3 separate regions of the Homo sapiens genome follow, and all the other regions are linked to region 1. Evidence: fine-mapped expression QTL. A gene starts in region 1. Each other region holds a variant in brackets. All regions are shown on one strand. Distances are from middle to middle.

What was found. PIP is the estimated chance that this variant, and not a neighbour inherited with it, causes the effect. A credible set is the group of variants that fine-mapping cannot tell apart.
Region 2: its variant is the best candidate, but not a certain one, in a credible set for the expression of GAS1RR in nucleus accumbens (GTEx, PIP 0.53).
Region 3: its variant is the best candidate, but not a certain one, in a credible set for the expression of GAS1RR in esophagus muscle (GTEx, PIP 0.55).

The regions. Positions count from the first base shown.
Region 1 is chr9:86,947,412-86,950,152 of GRCh38, forward strand. It overlaps GAS1RR (GAS1 adjacent regulatory RNA), which reads left to right and starts at 1,287. Exons shown (of 7, transcript NR_049794.1): 1 at 1,287-1,582. It overlaps GAS1 (growth arrest specific 1), which reads right to left and starts at 95. Exons shown (of 1, transcript NM_002048.3): 1 at 1-95.
Region 2 is chr9:87,134,873-87,137,637 of GRCh38, forward strand. No RefSeq gene overlaps it. Among named protein-coding and RNA genes, the nearest start is that of LINC02872, 12 kb to the right of the region's middle. The variant C/T (reference allele first, on the strand shown) is at 1,381.
Region 3 is chr9:86,996,050-86,998,814 of GRCh38, forward strand. It overlaps GAS1RR (GAS1 adjacent regulatory RNA), which reads left to right. Exons shown (of 7, transcript NR_049794.1): 6 at 1,265-1,354; 7 at 2,545-2,765. Among named protein-coding and RNA genes, the nearest start is that of LINC02893, 45 kb to the right of the region's middle. The variant T/C (reference allele first, on the strand shown) is at 1,610.

The sequences.
Region 1 (2,741 bases):
AAGTCGGCGCTGCCGGAGAGCGGCTCCCTGGCTTCACTCGGCGGCAGCTTCTCGGGTGACCAAGAGCCCGGGGAGCGGATCCGCTGAGCCCGGCTGCAGACTCGTTAGCAGCGAGGCTTTAAATACAAAAGTGGGCCGGGAGCCCCCGCGTGGTGCCGCGGTGCCCCCTCATTATGCATGCATGGAAAAGCAAACAAACAAAAACATTAGCAACGCTCCTCCGGCTCGCCGAGCCCCGGCCCCGCGCGCTCCGAGCCTGCCCGCTTTCTCCTTTCTCCACTCTCTTTCGCCCTTTGCTCGGCCCCCTTTCCCGGCTTTTCGAGATGCTATTGGTCCTGCCTGTTGTTGTTGAAAGTTTTTTTTTTTTTTTTTACGAGCCGCTGGAGTGGGGTTGCGGAGTGGGGGAGGGCGGGAGGGTGGTGGGCAGCTCACATTCAGGCATTCAGGGCTTGAAAGGAACGGCTTAGGGAGCCTGACGGAGGCCCGGAGCTCCTCCTACTCTTAAGGAGGCTCGGATATGCAGCCCCAGCTCGCGCACAGAACCAGCGGGCAGGGCTTAGGGGCAGCTGTTTGCATCCGGCTCAGCCACGGGCCTTTTTTGTTTGTTTTTTTTTTCTTTTTTTTTTTTTTTGTAGTTTTATTAATTCTCGCTGGCCCCCATCTGTGCTTTCGACTGGATTCAGAACTCAGTTTATCTTCCAGGCTCCCTGTCTTTGGGTCTTGATCACCACAGAGGGGAAGGGGAGAATCCAGAGATAAAATGTGAGACTGAAACTGTTTTAAAGAAGCATACAAGAAAGAAGCACACACTTTATTAGGGAGATGTTGATGAGATGCTTACAACCCGCCCGCCACCCCCCAGCCCCAGCTAGGCCATCTGGCAGGTACCGCCCGTGCGCCAGGCATCGTTTTCAAATTGCAAGACCGAAATCCAATCAACCGAAATAATTTCTTAGGAAGATAAGCTTGCAACACGTGCAATAATGAAAAAATTTAACTAGCATTAAAAATATTCAGGAATGTCGAGCAATTACCACCTGGCCGCAGTCACAGGACAGAAGACGGAATAAATGGGCACGCACCAAAGGTTTATATTAAAGTGTAAGTTTCAGCCCCTCAGTATATTTAAGGGAGGCTGCTCTGCAGAGGAAACCTCTGCCTTCTCGGCGAGGGAGTTTCCGAGCTACCTTAACTGGGGCGCAACGCAGCCTTCCGCCACCAGAGGCAGCGGGCGTCTGCGGCCTGTCAAAAACTGGCGCTTTTTTCCTCCCCTTTCCGTGGAGAGACTATCAACTCCATCTGTCACAAAAATTAAGGCTAAATCTCCTCTCCAGAAGCAGAGGGAGCCGGGGCTCCGACGCGCTCAGCGTCGGGCTGTCTGCCTCTCCCTAGAGGCCAAGTGAATTTGAAATGGCAAAAGTCACAGCCGGAGGCCCAGCACTAGGAGATTCCTCCGGCTGCGGGAAATCTTCCTGTACCTGCTGAAGCTGCTGCGTTCCTCAGAGGCGCTTGGTCTGCCGTGGGAAGCTGCACCTCTGCAGTCCCCAAAACCAAAATCAAACCTTAAAAGAGCCAGACTGAGGTAAGGCGGACCGTCTTGCTCTGATTTGAGTATTGGTAGACAAACAGCAATATAAATCGATACTAAAAAAATCCAGAAAGGCTGCAACTTCATGGCACATCAAAACAACCATATCCCTGGCTCTCTGTCTCTTTTTTTTTCTCTATTATTTGGAGTTGTCCTCTCAGTCCGGCCTGGAGGACTTGGACAACTCAGACACCTTCTCTGTGTCTGGGATCCCTCCACAGGTAAGGTTCGAAGCCAATTAGACAATTGAAAAATCCCCTCTTGTCTTTAAAGCTTTGTTATTTTAGGCCCATAAGGAACAAAGTCAGCACTCGGTTTCATCTTTACTTGAATTTTTGTTGAGTTCCTTTAGAATAGTGGGACCCAAACCTTAGCACGTATCCTAAAACTCAGATCCCTAGTTTTTGGAGTTTCTGATTTAGTTGGACTGGTGGGTCCCAAGAATATGCATTTCTAACAAGTTCTCAGGGAATGCTGCTCTCAAACTTTGAGAATCACTGCTCTCAAAGTTAACATGTTTCTTTTCTGTGTTGTTGCTGTGTTTTTGGTAACACTTGCCCCACCTTGGCCTTGATACAGCTCTCAGTGGGGTTTAAGGGAGGCCCAAGAGCTCTGCATGCTTTGGGGACTTCTGCATCCCAGTCACATAGCATTAGCATTGCAAGCCTGAGGGGTTCTCAGCCCACTTTTTACTGTGTCATTTCCATTCACCACAATAGGCTATACTGTCTTCTATCTTAAAAAAACATAATAGTAAAACCTTCTAGACTCCACGTCCCTATTCAGTCACTATCCCATTTTCATGAAAACTTGAAAATCTTGCTTTTACTCACTTTCCCCACTCGATTCACTCTACATAATCGAGTTCCATTCGATTATGTAGAGTCGCTAGTGACCAAAACCTTGCTCTACCTGATTGTCACTTCTCAGTCCTCAGCTTATATGACGTTTCAGCAGCATTGGCCATGACTGATCACCTCCTTTTCAAAGCGCTTTCTAAAATTTTGGCTTCCGAAACTCCATACTCCCCTGTTCTCTCATTTTACTGCCTGGTGGCTCCTTCTGTCTCTCAACTCCTTAGGTAACCACATCTAGTGCCTTGATTTTAAATTGCATCTCCTAATTTGATGTTTTCAATCTCAGTCTTTCTCTG
Region 2 (2,765 bases), 190 kb after region 1:
CTTACAGTTAAATGGAAGGAATAAGTTCTCATGCTTCATAGTAGAGTAGGGTAACTATAAGTTAACAACAATATACTATACATTTCAAAAGAGCCAGAAGTGAGGATCTGGAATGTTCTCAACACACAGAAATGACACATGCTAGTGGTGATAAATATCCTAAATACCCTGACTTAATCATTACATATTCTATATATGTAACCAAATATCACATGGATCCCATAAATATGTATAAATATAATGTATCAATTTAAAAAAGAAGCCAGTAAGCAAATTTTATTTTATTGGATTTCTACAGAATTGTTTTTTATGAAATTGTGCTTTGGGCATACCAAGATCTTATGCAAAGGGCCATAGAAAAAAACCTTACGAGGCTTCAATATCCAAGGAAAGTACATTGTTGAGGACATCAATCATTATGTAATGTTCAGGAGGACACCAGGAAGAATTACATATCTTGCTTTAGAAGAATAATTGAAATCTTTTTCAGTGATGCATTTTGTTCTTTTCCATCTTAAAAACATTGTCAATTGTATAAGTGGCCAGGTTAGGGCCATATCTTAAACCTGAACAGATTTAGATCGATACACAATGAACTTTTTAAGCTTCATTTCTTCCTTCATGGCATTCTTTCTCTAATGTATCTTTTTTCTTTCATCTAAAGTGTATTTAACACTCTATTTTATATTATACTTGTTTTCATAATCCACTAACTCACTCCTGGAATTAAGTGAAATATAAACAATAAATAATCTCTTAAGGGCTAACACTTGGAAAATGCTAAATTCTAAATACCCTTGAAGTCTCAGTGACCAAAATATAGTTGGACTTTAAGAAACATAGCAAGTTGCATCACTTCTTCCTCAGGCTGTATCTTCCCAAATCTTAAGGGAAAGGGAGAGGCAGTTTCACTCTGCTACATTGAAACAAACATCCTCCCCTATGCTCAGTTACCATCTCTGTTGTTTTGACCCTCAGGATGTGGTTATTTGAAAATTCTAGTTGCACTCCTTGTCAAAATTACTCAAGTAACATTGAGGACACACTTGGATTCTCTAGTCAAGGAATTCTGACTTTAAGATGACTATAGGTGTATTGATGGATGAGTGGAGGTCATTATAGAGCATATTTCCTAATCTCATTCTTTCTTCCATTATGTTCTTATCCCGTTCCATTTTTCTCTTTTTGCCTTATTTATATGTGATATGACATGCCCTTTATCTTCTGTTATATCTTGTTATACACTATTAATTCATTTCTGAAACTAGGTGGGATATAAATTAATATATTGTTTCCTGCTCTGTGGGTTTTACAACCTCTAAATTGTAAATTGGTGAAGTCACCAAACCTCAAGCAGGCATTTTGGTGTTACTGTACTTT[C/T]GATGGGCAGAATAATGCCTCTCCCTGCAAAGATGTCCACATTTTAATCCTGAAAACCTATGGATATGTTACCTTACACAGCAAAAGGGACTTTGCAGATGTAATTCAGGTTATGGACCTTGAGGTGAGGAGATTATCCCGGTTTACCTGAACAGTTCCAATATAATCAGAAGGGTCCTGATAAGAGGGAGGTTGGGGGGGATAAGACTCAGAGAAGAAGACTTGATGAGGGAAATAGGGCTAAGAGTCAAAGGGGGATTTGAACAGATTATGCTGCTGCTTTGAGGATGGGGGAAGGGGCCACAGAGCCAAAGAATGCAAGTCGCCTCTACAAGCTGGAGACAGGCCAGGAGACTAGAACCTCCAGAAGAAACACAGCACTGCCGACACCTTCATTTAGCCCAGTGAGATTCCTGACTTACAGAACTATAAAATAACAAATTTGTGTTGTTTTATGCCAGAAAGTCTGTGGGCATTTGTTAAAGCAGCAGCGGGAATTGAATACAACATTCCTTGAGAGTCTAGATGACTGCCATATCCCAATTGTGTTTTTACATTTTCTGTCTTTCTCTCTTATTCTTTTTTGCTCCAGAGACTTTGGTACTGTCCATTTCTTAGCCCTGAGTTTGCTCCTGGTATATGGACTAGATTCTATTATCCTGCCCAGAATTGTTCAGGTTTGAACTTCATGCACCTGTTTCGACACTGATACATCAAACCTATTCTGCCTGGGTACTTTGCCCAGATAGGACATCACCTTTCACTGTTCGTTCCTTAAGCTACATGGTGCCCGCCTTCCAAGTGCTGACACCTTCCCACATCTGTAGTGTGCTCACTGTGCAGTCCACCTGCCTTTATGCTTTAGGACTCAGTGCCATTGACAGAACTTTTCACAATGATGGGAATGTTCTACCTCTGTGTTCAGTATGGTAGCCACCGGCTGTATGTGGCTATTGAGCACTTGAAATGTGGCTACTGCCACTGATAAACCAAATACTTAATTTTATTTGATTGTAATTCATTTAAGATTCATTTTAAATAGGCATCTGCGGCTGGTCATTACCAAACTGGACAGCAAAACTAGGTTTTCACAAAATTCATTTAAATAATGATTAATTGAAACAGTCACCAGACACCTATAATCCTTAAGCTCAAATCAGCCAATTTACTTTAAATATTGCTTTAGAGGAAAGGCTGTCATAATAAAAAAATATATAAAAACCAAAGACATTTCTCCATGAAATAGGCTTCAATTGCATGGAGAGTGATCAGCACTTAAACAAAATCCCTCTAACTATTAAATCTTTGTGCATGTTACCATTACCTTCAGAAAGTCATAAAAGGAAATGTCCTTAATTAAAAGAGTAACTTTTGTGGCTCTAGGG
Region 3 (2,765 bases), 49 kb after region 1:
AGGGGAAGACAAGGAGGATGATAGTGTGCACGTCTCTAGCATCTGTACTTTATCTGTGCAATCTTATTTTACACTGATGACATGGTGATGATAGCAATAGTTATTTTTAAATGTTTGTTATTTAACACAGGTTTTGTGCTAAATTCAATATCCATTAACTTACATCATTTCATGATTCCCTTATGAAATATTCATTGTCATATTCCAATTTTACAGGTGAAGGAAATGAAGTAGAAGGATGTTACATACCTTGTTCAAAGTGACATAGCTGAGTCTGCTTGGACTGTGGTTCAAGCCATGCAGCCTAACTCTAGAACCCATGCTTTGCTACCTGACTTTCCAGACGTAGGAGGCAAATACCATAATCAGCTCCTTGTTTAGAGGTGTAGGAATTGAGGCCCAGAAAAAATAAGTAACTTGTCCAAAATATGTAGTGAAATTGGTACTTGAACTTTTGTCTGTCTTTCAACTACACTACCACCTCTAAATGCTCAAATTCAGATCATTTTAGATTTAAGGACTAGAAATAGCCTTGGAGATCATGTTATTAAATAATTACTCATTTTACAGATAATCTGTAATCACTAAAATCATTTACCTAAAGCAGTCAGGAACAGGTTCTATACAGCAAAGCAACTTAACATACAAAGGAAAATTATTGTTTGAAATATTATTTCTATTTTTTTTTTTTTTGAGATGGAGTTTCGCTTTTGTCACCCAGGCTAGAGTGCAGTGATACGATCTCAGCTCACTGCAACCTCCGCCTCCCAGGTTCAAGCGATACTCCTGCCTCAGCCTCCCGAGCAGCTGGGATTACAGGTGCCCACCACCATGCCCAGCTAATTTTTGTATTTTTGGTAGAGAGGGACTTTGACCATGTTGGCCAGGCTGGCCTCGAACTCCTGACCTCAGGTGATCCACCTGCCTCAGCCTCCTAAAGGGCTGCGATTATAGGCATGAGTCATCACACCCGGCTGAAATATTACTTCTATTTAATATTTAAGAAAACAAAATGAGGAATTCAATTCTTGATGGCAACACAGCTCTTGCTAGTAACTTAAATGCCTCATTGTTTCTCTGCAACAAGAGGAAAACTTGGGAAAGGATTCTGTAGGCACTGAGACCATCATAAGGAATTGCAGGACCCAGAGATTTTCATGAAAGTGAAATTGCTCATAGGAAATCAAAGCAAATGGCCTTAAGAGTGGCATCCAGTGGACCGTCCTCTGAAAAGTGACCCACAATTCTGCATGAATCTTTCCAGGACACTGAATTGGAGCCAGCTGATGTAAGGAGCTTACCTTGGTTGCCACCTTCTGGTCTCTGTTTGAGGAACAACTGCATGTGATTAAGGGTAACAGATACAGAATTTGTGTTAAGCCCAGGATGTAATTTGTTGAATGAGTAGCAATTGACTTGAAAATTGGATGGATGGGGATTGTGTTTCTTTACTCTCTCTCTCTTTTCTTTCTCCCTCTCAATACGGCTAGATTAAATCATCTTTAGTCTAGTCAAATCAGTGCTTGCTGTTGTTAAGAAGGATATTCTTGAGGTATAGTACTTCAGGGATGCTAATTGGGATTTGAGCAAGATGAAATTTCTACCCAGG[T/C]GTGTGCATCGTATACTGGAGATGGCAAAAACTGGTTCCAAATGAGGGTGTGTTTGTGTTCCTAGGCATGTTCCTATAGGGGCCAAAAAGATGCAAAATCTTCTTTTCTAAAGCTTTTGGTGTTCTCAAGCTTGTCTACACAATGGAATCACCTGGAGAATTTGGAAAACCAAAAATACTGATACCACTGATCCTACCCAACAGATTCTATTTTAATTGGTATGGAGTATGGCCTCAGCACTGATATTTTTTAAAGTTTCTGAGGCGATCCTAATGTGCAGCAAAGCACCGTCAAGCCCCCTCTCTCTGAGGAGGCACCAGCTGCAAGCATGTTTTACACCAATATGTTTGCTGAATATAAACATCCCAGTGCAAACTCTTGCACCCCAGAACTCTGGGCTGCTTGTGGACAGTCTTTGGCAAAGTCTGAATTTATAAACTGATAATACATATAATTCCATAGGCTCCATATGGTTCGTGTTATCCTGGGGGGAACTATACACATTTGCCTTGCCCCAGGATGGAAAGATAAATAACAGATGTGGATAATTTTTATCATACTTGTACTGAACAATAATAAAAAAATTAGAAATGAAGGAGCAGAGAGAGAAGTAAAACTCATGAAAACAAAGCTCAAATCAATTATTCTACGTTATATCTTTGCATTTTTAAGAATCCAAATACACAGTAGTACTCCATAGAAAAACCTGTCATACAGTTCTCCATTTCTAAGGGAGACTATCTCTAGAGTGATGAGACATAATATTAAAATTGTATGTTAATAAAGTTAATCAATTTGTTATTAGTGATAAAAAGTAAAATCTACATAGAGCTTACTGTGTACCAGACACTGTTCTAAGCACTATACAAGTATTAACTTATTTAACCCTCATTATAATCCTGAGACAAATCCTATTATTATCCTTATTTTACAGATGAAGAAACTGAGACCCCAAGAATTTAAGTAATTTGTTCAAGGCAACACACTGCTATGTGGTAGAACTACAAATTGAGCCCAAATAATCCAGCTTCAGATACTATGCAAAGGTATCCTAGGTGTGGGGGTGATAACCTGGTGACAATCCCTTCTCAGAAGGAAAACAGGTCCCATCTACAGAGGTGAAGCAGAGTGTGGAACTGAAAAACTCAATGGAAG